Linked DNA regions of Homo sapiens. The protein of the gene in region 2 purifies or fractionates together with the protein of the main gene of each other region. This does not show direct contact. Each region holds a gene or a part of one and is shown on either strand. Other genes may lie near its edges.

Evidence for each region.
Region 1: the proteins of SAMD3 (region 2) and ACACB purify together in Homo sapiens (affinity purification with mass spectrometry; one large-scale study listed by BioGRID and IntAct). This does not show direct contact.
Region 3: the proteins of SAMD3 (region 2) and MYO9A purify together in Homo sapiens (affinity purification with mass spectrometry; one large-scale study listed by BioGRID and IntAct). This does not show direct contact.
Region 4: the proteins of SAMD3 (region 2) and SUGP2 purify together in Homo sapiens (affinity purification with mass spectrometry; one large-scale study listed by BioGRID and IntAct). This does not show direct contact.

What each region holds. Positions count from the first base shown.
Region 1 is NC_000012.12:109,262,027-109,267,050, reverse strand, and holds part of ACACB (acetyl-CoA carboxylase 2), read right to left. Parts: intron 4,695-5,024; coding exon 4,582-4,694; intron 2,820-4,581; coding exon 2,665-2,819; intron 1,942-2,664; coding exon 1,771-1,941; intron 1,663-1,770; coding exon 1,526-1,662; intron 816-1,525; coding exon 689-815; 3' UTR 1-688. UniProt on the Homo sapiens protein: Mitochondrial enzyme that catalyzes the carboxylation of acetyl-CoA to malonyl-CoA and plays a central role in fatty acid metabolism.
Region 2 is NC_000006.12:130,180,970-130,185,993, reverse strand, and holds part of SAMD3 (sterile alpha motif domain-containing protein 3), read left to right. Parts: intron 1-1,370; coding exon 1,371-1,556; intron 1,557-1,806; coding exon 1,807-1,891; intron 1,892-3,652; coding exon of another isoform or gene 3,653-3,688; exon of another isoform or gene 3,689-3,922; intron 3,923-5,024.
Region 3 is NC_000015.10:72,111,187-72,116,210, reverse strand, and holds part of MYO9A (unconventional myosin-IXa), read left to right. Parts: intron 1-1,667; exon of another isoform or gene 1,668-1,953; intron 1,954-5,024. UniProt on the Homo sapiens protein: Myosins are actin-based motor molecules with ATPase activity. Unconventional myosins serve in intracellular movements. Regulates Rho by stimulating it's GTPase activity in neurons.
Region 4 is NC_000019.10:19,005,554-19,010,577, reverse strand, and holds part of SUGP2 (SURP and G-patch domain-containing protein 2), read left to right. Parts: intron 1-235; coding exon 236-723; intron 724-2,149; coding exon 2,150-2,261; intron 2,262-5,024. UniProt on the Homo sapiens protein: May play a role in mRNA splicing.

The DNA.
Region 1 (5,024 bases), on a different chromosome or scaffold from region 2:
AAATTAGCCGGGCATGGTGGTGGGCACCTGTAATCCCAGTTATCTAGGAGGCTGAGACAGGAGATGGAGGTTGCAGTGAGATCATGCCACTGCACTCCAGCCTGCATGACACAGTGAGACTTTGTCTCAAAAAAAAAAAAAAAAATTCATCCATACATTTTTCTGGGTGACTAGACAGTATCCAAAGAAACATCATTACAAAAATAGGTTTTCTCTAGTCCTGTCTATATATATATATTTTTTTCCCTTGGCCCATTTATTTGGCTGAAATATATGAGATGCTTACTTACATCTGGTGCTGGTCTCAGAGTAAAAAAATAAAAGATTTCACGATGTGGTATCCAAGGATCCTAAAGAACGCCTGGATCCCACATGCCAGGCACTGTTTTGCAAAAGGAAACAGGGATGTTTTAGCTTGATTAGATTTAGTGATGCAATAAAACTGCTGTCTTCAGAGACAAAACAAAATAAACTTCCCAGCTATGGAGAGGAGGCTGTTTTTGTTTGGAAGAGGCACTCCTGGGCCTTTTGTTAAGACGGGTGTCAGCTCGGAACCAGCAGCCCTGCAGAAGTGCCCAGGATTTTCTTTGTTTAAAAGCAAGTCTTCAGGGTCTGCTGAGGGTGTACGGGTGGTGGGTCTGGGTGGTTCCTTTTGCCGTGGTCCCGGGAGTGGCTGGGCGGGCCACGGTCAGGTGGAGGCCGGGCTGTCCATGGTAGACAGCAGGTGAACGACCTGCGCCCGCTCAGCTGGGCTGATGTGCTGGCTCAGGTATATCACACAGTCCACGGCCACCTCGGGGTTTTCTTCAACCAGGCTGTGGGGGAGGTGAGAGGAGGGCTGGGATCACTCCAGCCACTTTTTCAGTGGCCCCAAGGGTGGCAGAGTCCTTGTGTGGGGCCACACCCCAGAACCCAGAGCTCCCGAGTCCCTGCTGTGGTCCCCATGGGGGTGATGGTCCTGTGCAGCAGGAGGGGCTGTGACCTGAAGTTCAGAATGCCTTGAGGCACCACCGTCCCTACTGGTCACTGCTTTGTGACATGACCTGAGACAAGACACTGCCTTGAGTCTCAGCTTCATCCCCAAAATGGGGTCCCCTGTGCTCGACTCCCTCCTTCACGGGGTGACCCCATGGCAATTGGGGGAGGGGACCCTCTGGAAAGGTCAACACTGGCGTGGAAGACAGCAGCCTGAAGGCTAGCGGTTCCAAATGTGGGTTCTGTGACCAACCCTGCTCCAGCTGTGACTTTGGACAAGTCCATATTCCAGCAAGGTTCATGAGTTGGAAGCATCTCACACGGCCTTCAGAGTACCTCTAGGCTCTCTGTCCCACCCCAGCCACTGTGCTGGGAGACCCGACATTAGGGAGTGTGGTCTCTTTGCTGGGGAGCGGGGAGGGGGCGGGGACAACCCCAGACTGCACAGGGTGGCGGGTTCAAGTGGCTGCATAGGAGTCGGGTAGCTAGGGGTCAATCCAGGCTCGGGTCCTTGCCAGGAGGCTGGGAAGCAGGTGCGGTGGCCACTCACCCTCGGATGGTCTTGAGGACAGAGTCGTGCTTCAGGTACGTGATGTTCTCACGGATGGTGGAGCGCGGGCCATCCCCTGCCTGCCAGTGCTGTTCCAGCCACTGCACAACCACCTGGTTGTTGTCCCACAAGTAGGCCTGGGGAGGGGGCAGAGGATGCCTCAGAGAGGGACCCAGCTGTGGGCCAGCTGTCTCAGCCCCCAGCACCCCCTGTGCTCACCGGCCTCGTTCTCACCCCAGGCCCACCTTGACAGCCCCCTCCGTCTCCACGAACCAGCGACGCAGCATGGACTGGATATGCACGTGACTCAGCTCCCCGCTGGCCTGCAGGATCTCCTGCTTGACCTGGTCCTCCAGGAGGAGGCGGCGCAGACGCCAATACAGGAAGGTGCGTGCGGTCTTCCACTCCAGGATGTCCTGTGGACGAGCCAGGCTTGAATCCCCGGAAAGGGAAGGAGGAGACGGGACACTGGCTCTGACCACACCCATGACAGTGGCTGCCCGGGGCTGGGCCCAGGCTCTGAGATCATTCCCAGATCATCCCAGGCAAGTAAGCTGAGGCTCAGGGAGGAGAAGGCACCTGCTCAGAGGCAGGACGTCACCAGGACTCCAGACTGGCCATAGTTGAAAAAATGTCCCCCATAAAAACCTGGCACCCACTTCTACCTCAACCGACACAAACACAGGCTCGTGTGAGGCATGAGTCAGCTGGGAGGGAGAACAATGCAGCAAGAGAACCAATGAGCACTGGACATGGGTAGGAGGTGACTGTGGGAGTCCTTGCAATGGTGAGGGGTGGGTGAATGCTGGACAGGAACAACGGTTTCTACCCCTGGTCCAGGTCCAAACTGACCGAGCCATCAGACTAGTGGTCCCTGAACTTTGCTGCTTATTAGAATCTCTTGGGGATCTTTAAAAAATACGACCGCCTGGCTTCCATCCAGGTGTTTGGATTTCACTGGTCTGCAGTGCCACCTGGGGATCGGGATTATTTTAAAGTTCCCAGGTGACTCCCACCTCCTGCAGCATTTGACCCATCCCAACCACCACCGCCCTCCCCGCCCCCGAGCCCAAATGTCCTCCATGTTTTGGAAAACAGGGTGGGCTCTTTGCACCCTACACGGCAGCTGTGGCTCTCACAGATATGACGCCCTTCTCCAGCATCCGGCCGGGTGTGTCATGGAAGTCGGCGAACTGCACCGCCACCTGGTGGTAGATGGGGAGCAGCAGGTCCTCGCGAGCCTTTAGCCGGCCCTCCAGGTCCTTTCGGTCCTTGTCGGAGAGATCAGGTTCCCCTGCAGGTGAGCAGAAAGGCCAGTCAAGCCATGGAAGCTGGTCATATGTGATGGGGTGGAGATTTTTTTTTTTTTTTGAAGAAGGCACAAATCAGGATTTGCAGGACAGGCCTTGCCTTGTGAGAGGTCTGAGCTTTAACTCTGATATTACCCCTGCTGCTACACAGGCTGCCCTCAGCCCCCTAGGTCCCCCAGAGTCCACTGGCCTGGCCCCCACCCCAGGCCCATCTTGATGGCCCCCTTTGTCTCAGATCAAATAGCTAGTACAGTCTCAGAAATGCACTCACAATTGCAAGACAGCATTCAACATGCAACTCTACATTTTCCCCTTCCATCAGACCCATCGTGCTTGTAGGATACTATATCAATGATTTTTAGTACACATTGTAAAATATGATAAGGGAATATTATAAGCAACTCTATGCCAAATTGACAACTTAAGATGAAATAGACAAATTCCTTGAAACACACAAACCACCAAAGCTCACCTAGGAGGAAACAGATAACACAAATAGTCCTATATATAACAAAGAAGTTGAATTTATAGGTAAAAACCTCTATCAAAAACATAAAGAAATAATGCCAATTCTGCAAAAACTCAGAAAATAGGAGCGAACACTTCAACTCATTCTATGAGATCAGCATTACCCTGATACCAGCCAAAGAAATTACACGCACACACTGTAAAAAATCTTGTGAATAGCACAGTTATAAAGACACTGACACTTAAAATGGATATTTAAATATCATCTTGTGGCCAGACTTAGTGGCTCACGCCTGTAATCCCAGCACTTTGGGAGGCTGACGCAGGCAAATCACTTGAGGCCAGGAGTTCAAGACCAGCCTGGCCAACATGGTGAAACCCTGTCTCTACTAAAAACACAAAAATTAGCCAGGTGTGGTGGCACACACCTGTAATTCCTGCTACTTGAGAGGCTGAGGCATGAGAATCGCTTGAACCTGGGAGGCAGAGGTTGCAGTGAGCTGAGATTGCGCCACTGCACCCCAGCCTGGGCAACAGAGCAAGACTCTGTCTCAAAAATAAACAAATAAATAAATAAAGATAATTACATCTAAAGATGACAAGTAAAACAAAGCTGTCATTCAAACAAAATTAGTAAAATATCTTATCTCTGATTGGGAATTCTAAAGGAACATTTTGCCACCAAAATTCTGATAATCCCCATCAGCCCCAAATACTTCAATTGCTATCTTTTGTGTATGCTGAGAAATAAATTCACGATGGCAATATATATATATATATATATATATATATATATAATGTTAAAAAGGTTGATTTAGAAATGTGAATGTCCTCCAATCATGGTAGCTCATGCCTGTAACCCCAGCATTTTGGGAGGCTGAGGTAGGTGGATTGCTTGAGCCCAGGAGTTTGAGAACAGCCTGGGCAACATGGCGAAACCCCACATCTACAAAAATACAAAAATTAGCTAGGCATGGTGTTGCGTACTTGTAGTCCCAGCTACTCAGGCTGAGATGGGAGGATGGCTTATGCCTGGGAGGCAGAGGTTGCAGTGAGCTGAGATTGCACCCTGCACTCCAGCCTAGGCAATAGAGCCAGACCTCAAAAAAACAAAACAAAACAAACAGACAAATGTGAATATCTTTAAAAATCTCACAGTTATTATAGCTGTATTTTGGTATTTTTTCATTTTATTTTTAACATCCTAGAAACCCCCAGCAGTGGGCCAGCTGGGCCTCTCTTGACCTCTGAGAGGTGAAGCCTTTGGGACCCCCTTACCTAGCTGTTCCATGAGCTTCTTGTAAGCTGGATCGATCCTTCTCATGGACTTTATCAGATCTTTCTTTCGGAACTTAATCTCCACTGTCCCCTCTGGTTCCAGAACACCACCCCTTAAAAGAGAAGAGGCAGGGATGGGGGTATATGAGGCATTGCCCAGCAAGCAAGGGCTAATGGATGTGGGGGGAGCTGGAGGGAAGAGAGCCAGAAGATCTGGGTGTCAGTCCTCAGCTCTTTTACCCCCACACATGCTGTGTGCCCTTAGACAAGTCACTTTCCCTCTCTGGGCCTCTGTATCTTTACCCACAGATGGAAAGACTGAGCCAACTGTTTAAAATAATGCTTTCTGAACTCTGGAGGGCCCCTTTCAGGTCTAAGAGTGTACGACTTTTTCCATGGCAGCATAACCCTCCTGCTCTCCAGCCACAGTCCTCTCTAACTTT
Region 2 (5,024 bases):
TAAACAGCCTTATTGACATTTCATTTACATAGCATAAAGTTCACCCATTTAAAGTGAACAAGAGGCTAGCTGTGTTGGCTCATGCCTGTAATCCCGACACTTTGGGAAGCCACAGCAAGAGGATCACTTGAGCCTAGAGTTCGAGATGAAACTGGGCAACATAGTGAGACCCCATCTCCACAAAAAATAAAAAATATTGGCTGGGCATGGTGGCACGTGCCTGTAGTCCCAGCTATTTGGGAGGCTGAAGTGGGAAGATTGCTTGAGACCAGGAGGTCAAGGCTGCAGTGAGCTGTGATTGCACCACTGCACACCAGCCTGGATGGCAGAGCAAGACTCTGTCTAAAAAAAAAAAAAAAAAAAAATTGGGCAGATGCAGTGGCTCAGGCCTGTAGTCCCAGCACTTTGGGAGGCCAAGGTGGGCAGATCACGAGGTCAGGAGATTGAGACCATCCTGGCCAACATGGTGAAACTCCATCTCTACTAAAATACAAAAAATTAGCCAGGTGTGGTGGCACATGCCTGTAGTCCCAGCTACTTGGGAGGCTGAGGCAGGGGAGTCACTTGAACCCAGGAGGCGGAGGTTGCAGTGAGCTGAGATCGTGCCACTGCACTCCAGCCTGGCGACAGAGTGAGACTCCATCTTAAAAAATAATAATAATAAAATAAAAAATAAAAAAGTGAATAGCTCAGTTAATTTTAGCAGCTTTATATGCTTGTACAACAAATAATCACTACCCATTTTATCCACCCTCATCCCCAGGCAACTCCTGATCTGCCTTCTGTAGTTATAGTTTTCTGTAGCCCTTCATAGAAATTTCATCTGGATAGAATCGGAATATCTGTTACTTATATTTAATTTGGAAACTAAGTTCACCTTATCAAAATAGGCAAAGACAAACTAAATTAGGTGGATCTTGTATTTAATTATAAACAACAGCAGAATAAATTAATTAGAAGAATTTTCTTAACAGGTGCTAAGACTTTATGGTAGGCCTCATTTGCTTTGCTGAATTGCAATGTATTTTCTTTTTGTTAAGTATATTGTCTAGTTTTGAGCTATGCATTACATTTTCTCTTTAAGAAAAATGAATTAGTATGCATTTCAACTTCAGGCTTTATTCTAAAGTCTATATTATTATGACTTTTTCTAAAGAATACATATTTATGTGTTGTGTGAATGGACAAAGACACTTAATGAGCCTTCAAACATTTGTGGATGGATGAATGGATGGAAGATGGCTTGATGACTTCCATATATTTGGGTCTCAGGAAAGTTGTTTATTTCATAAGTTCTCAGGATGTAGCAAATTAATAAACTGCATATATTTGGAATAGAATTTCATTCTTTGTGTGTTTTTATTTCACAGAAGAAATGTGAAACAAATTCTAGCAAGAAGCAAAGCATTACAGTGGACGAAGTCCTATGTTTTACCAGAGTTTCCCTATGATGTCAAATGCATGTTAGCAGAGCAGAAGTGCCCGGATCACAGCATGAGGATAAGGATCATTGAGTTTCTCCAGGCCGACATGACTAAGTATCTGGAAGGCTCACTGTGAGTGACAACAGGACAAGCTTGCTGCTTTGGGAAAGGGTCTGTTTCAGAATAGAGTAGAATTCCTGTGGAATCAACTCTCTTCAGATTGTGGATGATATATTGGTAATAGGTCCCAATTGCCCAATATTTAAATCTCTTTTTGTTATATAGAAAAATGTGAAGAAAAATGAGTGTAATTAGACTCATCTTAAAGGAAGGAATGTGGTTTGCTTGAAGTGAAACATATCCTCCTTGTTTTGGTGAACAGGTACCCCAGCACCCAGCAGTACAATGACGTGGTTAATGCCCTGCTGCAGGCCCACCCTTTCCTGGATGAGGATGGCTGTGGCTTCGTAAGTGACCACATGGCACCATCCTGTTAATTTCAGACTATCTTAAAATAATTGCCTTGTGTTGCCCAGTAATTTTATGCTTCACCCATCTTTTCTTGGTGTCTCTCTCTCTCTCTCTCATTCTGTCTATGTATCTAGGTCTATCTGTTTCTGTTTTTCTGACTCTTTGTCTCTTTAATCTCTCTCCAACTTTGTTTCTGTCTTTCACTTTCTGTTAGTCCATGCTTCTTTCTTGACTTTGCGCTCTCTCTCTCTCTGGCTCTCTCTCTTTCTCTCTCTGTCTCCTTGTCTTCCCTTTTTCATAACTTCTTGGTCTCTCTCTGCCCTGTGTTTCTTTGTCTTCTTTGTCTCTCTCTGTCATCATGTTGCTGTCCTGTCAAAACTGGAAGCTCAGTGCAACAGAGCTGATCAGGAGTTGCCTAGGGCTGAGGGTGGCCAAAATGGATAGTGATTATGGTTGCACAAGCATATAAAGTTGCTAAAATTGAGCTGTTCGCTTTAGAGTCTTAAGGGTTTTAAGGGTTAGGAAGGGTCTTTAGGAGATGTGACACATAGAAAGAGAAAGACATGGCTGCACCTGCTTCGGAGCTGTCATCAAGTGTTTCTTGCCTTCTCAGACCCAGTGGAGCTGTTGTCTGGCTTTGAGGTCTGGGCCTCCAGCCTTACCTGGCCCTGTCAGATCTCTGCTTTCTGTCCTGATAAAAACAGACCCTCAGGATGCTCTGGGGCAGCAGTTCTTTTTTTTTTTTTTCCTTTTTTTTTTTTTGAGACGGAGTCTCGCTCTCTCACTCAGGCTGGAGTATAGTGGCGCGATCTCAGCTCACTGCAACCTCCGCCTCCTGGGTTCAAGCAATTCTCTGGGGCAGCAGTTCTAAGCTCTGGTTGCACATTAGGATTCCTAGAGATTCAGATTGAATTAATTTGAGGATGGGATTATTCTAATGTACAACCACGGCTGAGAACCACTGCCGCTGACGTTTCAACACAAAGTTTGCTGTTTGAACCTGCCTGTCTCCTGGATTTCAAAGACCACTGTCTTCATTGCACAACAATGTGAATATAATCAACACTATTGAACTGTACCTAAGAATAGTTAATAAAAAACTGAGTGTTTATGATGCTGTAACTTTATGAGTTAAGGAACAATTACAAGGAACTGTAGCTATGTATACAAAAAGGTAGATGGTCTATTATTCCCTGTATCTCTATATGCCATATGCATACACATTGGTAGGCATATCTAAAGAAGATAGATGTCTTTTTGTGCTTTACTGTCTCAGATGTCTGTGAAAAGATATTTTTTGCTGTGCTTTCTTAAGGACATGGAATTTCAGCAATTATTTCCAAGAACAACAAAGGATAAATGCCAATTATCTATGAATATAAAGACATTTTAAGGCTCTGTTTCCTCCCTCCCTTCCTCCTTTCCTTCCATCCTTCTTTCCTTCCTTCCTTCCTTCCTCCCTCCCCTCCCTCCTTCTTTCTTCCCTCCTTCCTTTCTTCCTTCCTTATTTGTATTTACCCCTCCCTCCCTCTCTCCCTCCCTTCCTTCCTTCTTTCCTTCCTTCCTTTCTTCCTTCTTTTTTTGTATTTTCAAGAAAAGGTTCATTATATATGGAGAGAATCACAGAATTTTCTCAGTGGGAGAGGTAATTAAAGGTTTTTTTCACCACTCAGACTGAGGAAAGATGTTGTATACCATGTCTGGAAAAATGATAGTTATTGAAGCCAAGATTAGAATTCAGGTATTCTTGCTTCTAGGATGACATCCTTTCCAAAATATGCTGCTGCATATAAAGTGCACTACAGAAGAAACTGAATTTCCTCTAAAAAAACAAAACAAAGCGAAGGAAAAAAAACAAGGCAACAACAACAATACTACACAAACCTGGCATCCCAACATTGACAATCATGTCAATATGGCTGACAAAACTGATTCTCGGAATTTCTTCTACACTGGAGATACATCTACCAACTTAATGTCTAATCAGTGTTACTGTGTATAGAACTTGTGGTTTTTTTTTTTTTTTTTTTTTTTGAGACAGAGTCTTGCTCTGTCGCCCAGGCTGGAGTGCAGTGGCACGATCTCGACTCACTGCAAGCTCCGCCTCATGGGTTCACGCCATTCTCCTGCCTCAGCCTCCCGAGTAGCTGGGACTACAGGTGCCCCCCACCACGCCCAGGTAATTTGTTGTATTTTTAGTAGACATGGATTTTCACCATGTTAGCCAGGATAGAACTTGTGTTTTTTTTTTAAATTTACATTTACTGTTTGAATAAATTACATATTTACATAGCTCAAAATTCAAAAACTACAAAAGGGTATAAATAGAAAAGTTTCCCACCCGCCCTTGCTTCTGCAGCCACCTAATTTTCCTCCCCATAAGTAACCAATACTATTAGAGTCCCTCTAGAGAATCTTTGCATATACCTAAGCAAATCCATATTGATTCAATACCTTTTGACCTTTAGTTTGATGGTTATCAAAGTGAGACATGTACAAAGTAACAAATAATGCTTTCTTTGCTCTTGTGTCCATTTTATCCACATCTGTTCCCAGTGACATTCACTAAGGACCGTTAACTGATAAAGAGATGTGTGCAAAATTGCTTAGCAGATTAGGGCTCAGATTTGCACTCATAGAGTAGAAGGAGAAACTCTGGTGCCTGGATGGATGTTTACCCAAATTCTCCCTGCGAGTGTGTGTGAGGTTGTGTTTCTAATGTTACAGTGGAAAATGTACAAAATTTCAGAGAACATTAATGGGAGGCAGGGGTGGAGAAAGAAAAAGGGTGCACAAACTTGGTTATTTTTAGGGCTAAGTTTATTTTTAACTCTTAATTTTGAAAAATTTGGGGCCGGGTACGGTGGCTCATGCCTATAATCCCAGCACTTTGGGAGGCCAAGGCGGGCAGATCACCTGAGGTCAGGAGTTTGAGACCAGCCTGGCCAACATGGTGAAACTCTCTCTCTACTAAAAATACAAAAATTAGCCGGGCATGGTGGTGGGCACCTTTAATCCCAGCTACTCAGGAGGCTGAGGCAGGAGAATCGCTTGAACCGGGAGGCCGAGGTTGCAGTGAGCTGAGATCACGCCATTGCACTCCAGCCCAGGTAACAAGAGCGGAACTCC
Region 3 (5,024 bases), on a different chromosome or scaffold from region 2:
GAGTAATGTAGTAAAAATTTCTGTTCCGCCTTCACTCTCCAGCCACCCATTTTTCCTCTTTAGAGGCAACCACTATTTCCAGCTTCATGTGTATCCTTTCTGTGATATTTCCAATATATAAACCTACACATTTATATTTTTAAGACACTGTACACAAATGGTTGCATACTTTACATTCTATACATAGCCTGTTTTTTTTACTTAATACTACATCCTAGAGGTCATTTCTTAACAATACATATGGAAGTGCCTCATTTACTGGCTGGATAGTATTCCATTTTTGTGGACTGGAGGTTATTTTTGGTGTTTTGCTTTTACCAACAATGTTACATGCTTTTCTTTTAAATGTGTCTGATGTTATATGTATGTTTAAATAATTTTGTGAGTTGAAAAAAATTCCTGATGATTCTTTTATGTTGAACCTACAGAAAGGATGTAACTAAATTTCTCATTGAACCTCTGAGCTTCCACAGTGTGACTAGCTGTGATGATGATTATAATATTTATTAAATTATTGAAGGATTTTAAAGCAGGGGACTGGAATGATCAGATTTGCATTTTAAAAAAGTCATTCTGGCTGCAGTGAATTGAAGAGTAGAATAAGACTAAAGGCCAGGAATATTAGGGTTATCCAGGCAAATGGTGAGACTGGATCTGAACTTGGATATTCGGAGTTGAGTTGGTGATTTTATTGTATTTGGGGTTGGGGAGAAGTTGCATACAGGATAAAATCTAGGTTTCTGGCTTGTGCCTTTCACTGAGGTGGGGATTCCCATGAAGGAGTGGGATTTTGTTTTTATTTTGTCAAGGAGGAAGGATAGAGGGGTTAATTTGTGACATGTTCAGTTTAGGTGACTGTAGTTCTGTCAGATGTAGATGACCATTAGGCATTTGGATTTGTGGCTGAAGCTCAGTATCAGGTTCTGGGTTGATAGCAGTAGATTTTGGAGGCAAAATCATACAGAAGGGAGGAGAAAAGGTTTTAGGATGGAAACCCAACATTTAAATTACAGGTAGAGTTGAATATTTAAATTAGTAAATTACATGATTAAGTGCCTTTAAAAAACTTATTCTAGTTTAAGCATTAACAGTGAGATTCACTATCTAATATATGAATTTTTAACAGTTGTTTTCCCTTAGTTATTTTAGTAGTATATAGTTCCTGAGGGAAATTGGGTAAACTTAGATTTTTTTTAACAAGTACCTCAATAGAAGTTAGCGATATAAACTCCATCTTTCCTAATCATTTGGATTATACTATGTGGAAGTTTGTTCAGTCTTTAATAGCAGAGAAATGTAGGAGGTTTGAAAATATGATTTGCCAAGAATATTAAGGTTTTTAGTTGGAGTGATTTTTGGTTATGTTAACTCAGTTTGAAATAAATATTAGTCAAAGACTTTTCAGACATTTTAAAAACCACAATATTGACTTAATGTATTGATTCCTAAGTCTAGAACTGCTGTCTAGAGTGCTTGCCTTTGCTCTAGACCCCTGTAAAAGCACTGCCTAATGGATATCACCACTTTGATTCACATTTCACAAACACTTCAATCCAAACATTTAGGAAACAAAACTCTTCCTGCCTCTTTTCCCCCCACAAAAACAGTGGAGAGAGAGCCGGAGACAGAAACTGCAACAAAATTTTTTCTTCCCCCCGATTTCCTACCTTGATTAATGGCACCACTCTTTCCTCATGAAACCTTCAGGAACCTGGGAATTGCCCTCCGCTTCACTCTGTACTTCACTGCCAACATCCAGTCTGTCACTGCCTTGTACATTTTCCCTCATGATATTTCAGGTCATTCCTTATTACTTTTTGTTGCCTCTATCTTATTTTAACTGAAAATATCTGTTTGTTGGGCTTCTGTAATGCTGAGTGGTCTTCTTGCCTTCTGTCTTCTGCCTCTTGTCATGCCCTCCTGTTCATTCTCTTGACTGCTGTTGGAGTAAGTATTCTAAAATGCTCTTTTAGTCAGGCTCTTTCACTTGGAGGGAAGAGACTCAAGTTACCTTAAGTAATGAAGTGCTTATTGAAAGGAACCATACACAAGGGAACCCAGGAAAAGTTAACTTGCTCTCAAGAAGAAAAAGAACCTAATAAAACTTGCTCTCAAGAAGAACAAGAACCTAATAAAGCTGGAGACCCCACTCCAGTGCTCCATTGTTAGCTTGTCCTAGATACCGTTTCTTTCTTCAGTTTTTTTCCCCCTATGTCATAGCTTCCATTTATTACTAATTTCTGCTCCTTATAACTACTATGTGACCCCCATGCCAACATCTTGCCTCCTGGCTGCAATTGTTTTAAAACGTTTTAAAAGAGGTTAGCTCCTGTTGCTAACCTCTTCCTTTTCCCTAGGATTTTCTGGTTTGAATTCCAGATTTGGCTCAGCTCTTTTTCTCATTGATTGCTAACAAGTCTGTGTACTTAGGTTATGTCACCACTCTTGGCCATTTATTGTTGGCTGTGTGTTTGTATGTATATATGGGTATCAGGAAAGATCTTAATGGTGGAAAGTATGGGACAGTGTGCAGGCTAATTTACCGCAAAATGGGGTTGTGAGCATGGCCCACACCATAATTTTGACATGTATAGTACAGATAAAAATCAAATCATGTCCTTTCCTATTGAATAATCTTCAAAAAAGCTGTCTCATTGCTTTCAGGATAGAGTTTAAACTGTAGCATGGCATGTGTATGAGATCATTCATGATCTAACTCTTAATTCTCTAGCTTTTCTTCACTTGCTGTCTTCCTTACATACTTTAATCCACTCTTACTGACTTTAGGCTTCCTCTCAGGTAATGTGCTTTCTCTCTCGTCTTTTACATTTGATGTTCTATTTCCCTGATTTCCACTTTCCCCTTTCTTTGCTTGGCTAATTTCTGTCTGACCTTTAGGATTCAGTTCAGGTGTATATTCTTCAGGAAGATTTCCTTTACCTCTTTTCAGATTAAGTTAGGTACCATTCTTATGTGCTCCTGTAGCACATAGTAATTACTTCTATCATAGTCCTCTAATGAAATAGCTTAATTACTTGTCTGTTTTCTTCACTAGGGTTTGACTACTTTGGTAAGAGGGATGATATCAGTGCTTTTTAGTAAAACAAGTTTTTAGATTGAGCATTTTAAAAAATATAAGTTCAGAAAAAATAGGGTCTCACTGTGTTGCCCAGGCTGGTCTTAAACTCCTGGACTAGAGCCATCCTCCTGCCTCAGCCTTTGAAAGTGCTAGGATTACAGGCTGAGCCACTGTGCCCAGCCTAAAAATATAAGACTTTATAAATTATAAAATATACAAAAAGTACACAGCTGGTAAATATATAGCTCAGTGAATTTTCACTAAGAACATACCAGTGTAACTAACATCTACATCAAGATATAGAATATCACTAGAACTCTACAAGCTGCCTCATGCCTTCTTCTAGTCACTAATCCAGCTCATAGAGGATTTAATTTACATGGGAAACCCTTTAACATATAGGTTTCTGTACCTATTTTGTGTGTATCTTTAGACATGCAAGGAGTGTAGGTATTGGAATTTTGATCCTGTAGAAAGAACATACCTAATTTATGTTATAGAAACAATTATGGCATAGTTTCATACAATAGACAAGTTCAAAATAACATAATACTACTAAGGTTTATTTGTGAGATGTTATATTTAGGTAGGTGTTTTTGTTTTATACATTTAATATGATTTTAGAGTGGCAGAAAATAATATGATAGAACAAAGTATATTTGCTGAAAATGGCCTATGAATTATGAGTGGTAAATATGCTTGGGATAGGTATAGTAAACATGTAAAGCACTTTCCAAATAGTGTTAGGCCTCTGGGTTTTAATGTGAATTATGTTGCTGGCGTATTTTGGCAGTGGGGTCATCCAGCGGGCAACTGAAGTGTAATTTTACATGTACAGTGAGGAATGGACTAGCTGTCCTGTCATAGACAGCTGGCTTGCTAAAAATTGTGTGTGTTTTTTTTATTTATTTATTTTTTTTTACAATTAGCAATAATTTTGGAGCATACTTTTTCTCAGTTTTGATTTTTCTTAAACTGTAAGATTGTGTAGCTCTTTGAATATATAACTGTATTCTTTTAAATATTCTTTTTCCTTAGATAGGCTTTTATATCTGTGAATCTTAAATCCATTAAGTGGAGAGAATATGGATTCTCAAACCTAGATTTCTAACAGACCTGGATTCAAGTTCTAGCCTTATAACTTTGGAACTGTCATTTATGGGCAAGTCAGTTAACGTTTGAGAGCTTGTCAGAATTTTCATCTCTCAATTGGGGATAATTGGGAGGCAGAGGTGGAGGTAGGAGGATCAGTTGAGCCTAGGAGTTTGAGACCAGCCTGGGCAACATAGGAGACCTTGTCTCTACAAAAATGACAAAATTATTATTAAATAGCTGAGTGTGGTGGCATTCACCTATGGTCCTAGCTACTTGGGAGGCTGAGGTGGGAGGATCACTTGAACCTGGGAGGTCGAGGCTGCAGTGATCTGTAATCATGCCATTGTACTCCAGGCTGGGCAACAGAGTGAGACCCTGCCTCAAAAAAAAAAAAAAAATTGGGGGTAATATTTGCCTCATAAGACTATCATTGGAGTTAAAAAAATTTTTATGTAAAGCACCAAGCATATAGTAGGTACTCAGTAAGTCTTCCTTTTCCCTCTTGAATACGTCTATTTCCTGTTTTATTTATTAATTTTTTTTTTTTTTTAAGACAATCTCACTCTGTCACCCAGGCTGGAGTGCAGTGGCGCAATCTCGGCTCACTGCAACCTCTGCCTCCTGGGTTCAAGTGATTCTCGTGCCTCAGCCTCCCGAGTAGCTGGGACTACAGGTGCACGCCACCATGCCCGGCTAATTTTGTATTTTTAGTAGAGACAGGATTTCACCATATTGACCAAGCTGGTCTTGAACTCCTGACCTCAAGCGATCTGCCTGCCTTGGCCTCCCAAAATGCTGGGATTATAGGTGTGAGCCACTGTGCGCAGCCTATTTCTTGTTATGTTTAAAT
Region 4 (5,024 bases), on a different chromosome or scaffold from region 2:
GCTGATGGAAATCAAGGAGGAACTCAGTTCAAACTCCCGATTGCCCTGTGGTCACTCTTAGCAGGGCAGCTGTCTTGGGCCTAGCTCTGGGTCCTCAGTAGAGCCAGGCAGAGCCTCTGAGACAGGAGAGGACAGTGAGGAGTTGGCCACTTAGAAAGGGTTTGTGTTTGAAGGAACAATTTGGGACCTGGTGGTGTTTTCATAAATGTCCCGTTATGCTTGTTTTGTTATCTAGGTTTTTGTCTGATGAAAATAGTCTGGAGTATAAATATTACAAGCTGAAGTTGGCAGAAATGCAGCGGATGAGCGAGAACTTGCGAGGAGCCGACCAGAAGCCGACCTCAGCAGACTGTGCAGTGAGGGCCATGCTGTACTCCCGGGCTGTCCGCAACCTCAAGAAGAAACTCCTTCCGTGGCAGCGGCGGGGGCTCCTCCGTGCTCAAGGGCTCCGGGGCTGGAAGGCGAGGAGAGCGACCACCGGGACCCAGACCCTCCTATCCTCAGGCACCAGGCTGAAACACCACGGCCGGCAGGCTCCAGGCCTCTCACAGGCAAAACCATCCCTGCCAGACAGAAATGATGCTGCCAAGGACTGCCCGCCAGACCCAGTTGGACCTTCTCCTCAGGACCCCAGCTTAGAAGCCTCAGGCCCATCCCCCAAGCCAGCAGGAGTGGACATCTCTGAAGCACCTCAGACCTCTTCTCCCTGCCCATCTGCTGACAGTGGGTGCTCACTCCTGTCCCCCTCCTCTGGGCCCCAGTCCCTACTCTCCCATCTCCAGGGTCTCTTTAGAATTGGGGGGGCCTGCAATCTAGGCAAGGCAGTGGATAAAAGCTCTAGGGACCTGGCCAGGACAAGTGTACATGTTGGCGCTTTCTCTCTTGCTTTCTTGAGAGAGCTGCATGCGAGTCCTGCAGCTCCCTCCTCCTCTTCTGAGAGCGGAGCTGGTATGAGGTGCTGCCCCATGCCTTCGTGCTCCCCGACAGGGTCCTGCTGCTGGGGCCGTGGGCGGTGCATTGCCTGAACTTGGGATCCCATGTCCTGCTATATCCTGGCCTCCCTTGATAGTCTTCGGGACTGCCTTGTTCTCATTGCGCCTCCTCATCCCCAGGGTCTCCACAGTTCCTGTTCTTGGGGTTCGCTGACCTGCACTGCTTCCTCCGAATCGACTAACTTCACCCCTTCTGTTTCTTCTGTCACCTTAGCTGTTTCTTTCTCTCTGTACCACAGGCCTGCTCTCTGGCCAGTGCTTCCTAAGCACTAAGTGGGAAGGAGAGAGCAAAAAAGTGTCCACAACTGCTGCATTATTTAGGTGTTGCTGTGTCGTGAGCCGTTCCAAACTGTGGCTTAAAACAGGAGGCATCAGCTGGGCGTGGTGGCTCACACTTGTAATCCCAGCACTTTGGGAGGCCAAGGCGGGTGGATTGCCTGAGCTCAGGAGTTCGCAACCAGCCTGGGCAACATGGTGAAACCCGATCTCTACTAAAAATACAAAAAATTAGCTGGGCGTGGTGGCACATGCCTGTAGTCCCAGCTACTCGGGAGGCTGAGCTAGGAGAATCGCTTGAACCCGGGAGGCGGAGGTTGCATTGAGCCAAGATCTCACCACTGCACTCCAGCCTGGGCGACAGAGCAAGACTCCATCTCAAAAAAAAACCAAACAAACCAACCAGGAGGCGTCCGGTATTGTGAATTTGCCAGTGGCTGGGTCATCTGCTGAGCTAGCCCACACATGTCTGCGGTCAGTGGCAGGTGTCCAGGCTGTCAGCTGAGATGATGGTGTGGCTGGGCCACATGCCTGTCATCCCCCCAGCAGCCAGCCCATGTTTGTTCACCTGGCAATTGGGGTTGGGGCTTCAGGAGAGACAGTGGAAGTACTCAAGTCCTCCAAGGCCCAGGCTTGGAACTGGCAATGGGCTTTTCCACCACATTCTATAGCTGATGTGAGTCCCAGGACCAGCCCTGATTCAAGGTGGGGATACACAGAGTTCACTTCTTGGTGACAAAGGGTCCACATGTGACGAAGGGCAAGGCTACAGGGAGGGGACATGCAGGCCATCTTTATAATCAGCCTCCACAACCCTGCAGTGTTTACACGGGGAGCAGCAGCTCAGGAGTCATGCCTGACAGGTGCTTTATGTTTTGTAGTTGACATGAAGACAATGGAGACTGCAGAGAAACTGGCTAGATTTGTTGCTCAGGTGGGACCAGAGATCGAACAATTCAGCATAGAAAACAGCACCGATAACCCTGACCTGTGGTACGTACCCCCCCGGGTCTCATCACACCTTTTTCTTTCTCAGAGAGACAAAGTCTAAGGATGTTGCTTAGGCTGGATTTGAATTCCTGGGCTCAAGTGATCCTCCTGTTTCAGCCTCCAGAGTAGCTGGGACCACAGGTGTGCTCCACTGCAACTGGCCATTACACCCTTTAGATTTGAGTGTGTTCACGCCACAAGCATGTCCTGAGCCAGCCCACAGCCTGGCCAATGCATTCCTACTATGGGGGTTATACCAGGAGTAAGTCATGACTTCACTTCAGCTGAGCCAGGGGCCTAAGGGAGAAAGATCTGTTCTAATCACCCGAGTTCAGGAGTTCGAGACCAGCCTGGCCACCATGCTAAAACCCCATCTCTACAAAAATACAAAAATTAGCCGGGCATGGTGGCAAGCACCTGTAATCCCAGCTGCTTGGGAGGCTGAGGCATGAGAATCGCTTAAACCCGGGAGGCGGAGGTTTCAGTGAGCTGAGATTGAGCCACTGCATTCCAGCCTGGGCAACAGAGCGAGACTTCATCTCCAAAAAAAAAAAAAAAAAAAAAGGCTAGGTGCAATGGCTCATGCTTGTAATCCCCGCACTTTGGGAGGCTGAGGCGGGTGGATCATGAGGTCAGGCATTTGAGACCAGCCTTGCCAACATAGTGAAACCCCGTCTCTATACTAAAAATAAAAAAAATTAGCCGGGTGTAGTGGCAGGTGCCTGTAATCCCAGCTACTCGGGGGAGGCTGAGGCAGGAGAATTGCTTGAACCTGGGAGGCGGAGGTTGCAGTGAGCCGAGATCGCGCCATTGCACTCCAGCCTGGGCAACAAGAGTGAAACTCCATCTCAAAAAAAAAAAATCTGTTCTAGGGGACCTGCCTTCATCTCGGGCATCAGGAAAAACCTCCCCAGAGGGACATTTAATCTGCATCCAAAGGCTAAATAGGAGTTGGCCAGGGGAGGGGAGAGAGGTGAGGATTTGCTGCTCACTGCATGATAGTAGTGATAGTCAGCCCTTGCCCAGGTCTGACAGCAGGCACTTCTACACAGGGATAAGGTGGCGTGCTCATGCTGGGAGCAGGTACCTTTGCCCTCTCCATTCCTTGGATAGGTGGAGCTCAGCTCAAAAGCACACAGCCCATAGGCAAGAAAACCTGGGTGAGGAGCCAGCACTGCCCCTGGGGTTTTTCCCCGGGGTGACATGAGATGTCCCCTCCAGAGAAAGGCTGCCGGTAGGAGGCACCCATCTTCCCATTACTGAGCCAGAACCCTACTGAGGGGGCTCTCAACTCCTCGTGCTGGTCCTAGCTTGTTGGACAGTCATGCCTTCATCCAGTTAAAATTACAGTTGAAAACGTGCATTTCTCAGAGCATTTATGGGATTCAGTGGTGACAGAACATACTCTTTCAACTTGCTTGGGACCTGATTGCACAAGCCAAGCCCTACTCCCCTCCGCAGCCTTGGCTTATGACTGGGTCCTGCACTAAGGTACCACCTGCCTTGTGGGGCACTGACCACCTACAGACGGGAAGCCTGACCAGGCTTACAGTCAGGTTTTGCCTTTTACAGGCAGTAGTGGCCTTGGGGAGCTGCTGGGCCCTGTAGACCTCGGGGTCGGACCTGTCCACTGTGTATGTGGGATTTCCTCTGGCAGGGTTGGATAAGGAGGACAGCTCAGTGCAGGGCAGCTGGGGGCATCCCATGAGTCCTTTTTTCTTTTTCACTTTCTTTTTTTTCAATGAAAAGTACAGTTTAAAGGAGAATTTTGCATTAGCCTGGGTACTTGGGCTGTAGTACTTGTTGGGTTTTGGGTGATTCCTCCCCATCTGTGACAGCCTTTTCTGAGCAGTGTCCTTCAGAGTACTCTGTCCTGTCCTTCCCTGGAAGGAGAGCCCTGGATCCTGACCACAATACTGGGCAAGGTGTTGGACGCTATCCAGCCATGCTTGTAAATGGGCCAAGATGACTTTGTGTTTCTTTTGCCTTTAGAAAAAATTTAATTCTAATGTGCTCAAGCTTATTGAGTTAATTCATTTTGTGGGTGTGGTTATGTTATAAAGTTGTCATACAATCCGTTTTATTTATTTATTTATTTTTGAGACGGAATTTCACTCTGTCGCCCAAGCTGGAGTGCAGTGGTGTGATCTCAGCTCACTGCAACCTCCGCCTCTCGGGTTCAAGCGATTCTCCTGCCTCAGATTCCCAAGTAGCTGGGATTACAGGTGTCACCCAGCTAATTTTTGTATTTTTAGTAGAGACGGGGTTTCACCATGTTGGCCAGGCTAGTCTTGGATTCCTGACCTCAGGTGATCTGCCTGCCTCAGCCTCCCAAAATGTGCTGGGAGGCATGAGCCACCATGCCCGGCCCAGATTCATTTGTTTCTGCTGATATTTAGTTGTATGTGTGTGTGGTGTGTGTGTGTGGTGTGTGTGTGTGTGTGTGTGTGTGTGTGTGTGTGTGTGTGTGTGTGTTTGTTAGCCTGGTATAGTGGCATTTGCCTGTGGTCCTAACTACTTGGGTGGCTGATGTAGGAAGATTTCTTGAGCCCAGGAGTTTGAGGCTGCAGTGAGCTGTGATCACACCACTGCACTCTAGCCTGGACGACAGAGTGAGACCCCATCTCTAAAAATGTGTAATAATAATTATAAAGCCGTCCAGCTTTTCCAATACCATTCTTTGAAAGACCCACCCCTTTTTTGTAGTAGTTTGAGAGGTTACCTTAATCAAATGCTGGGTTTCTGGTCTTTCTATTCTGTTCCTTT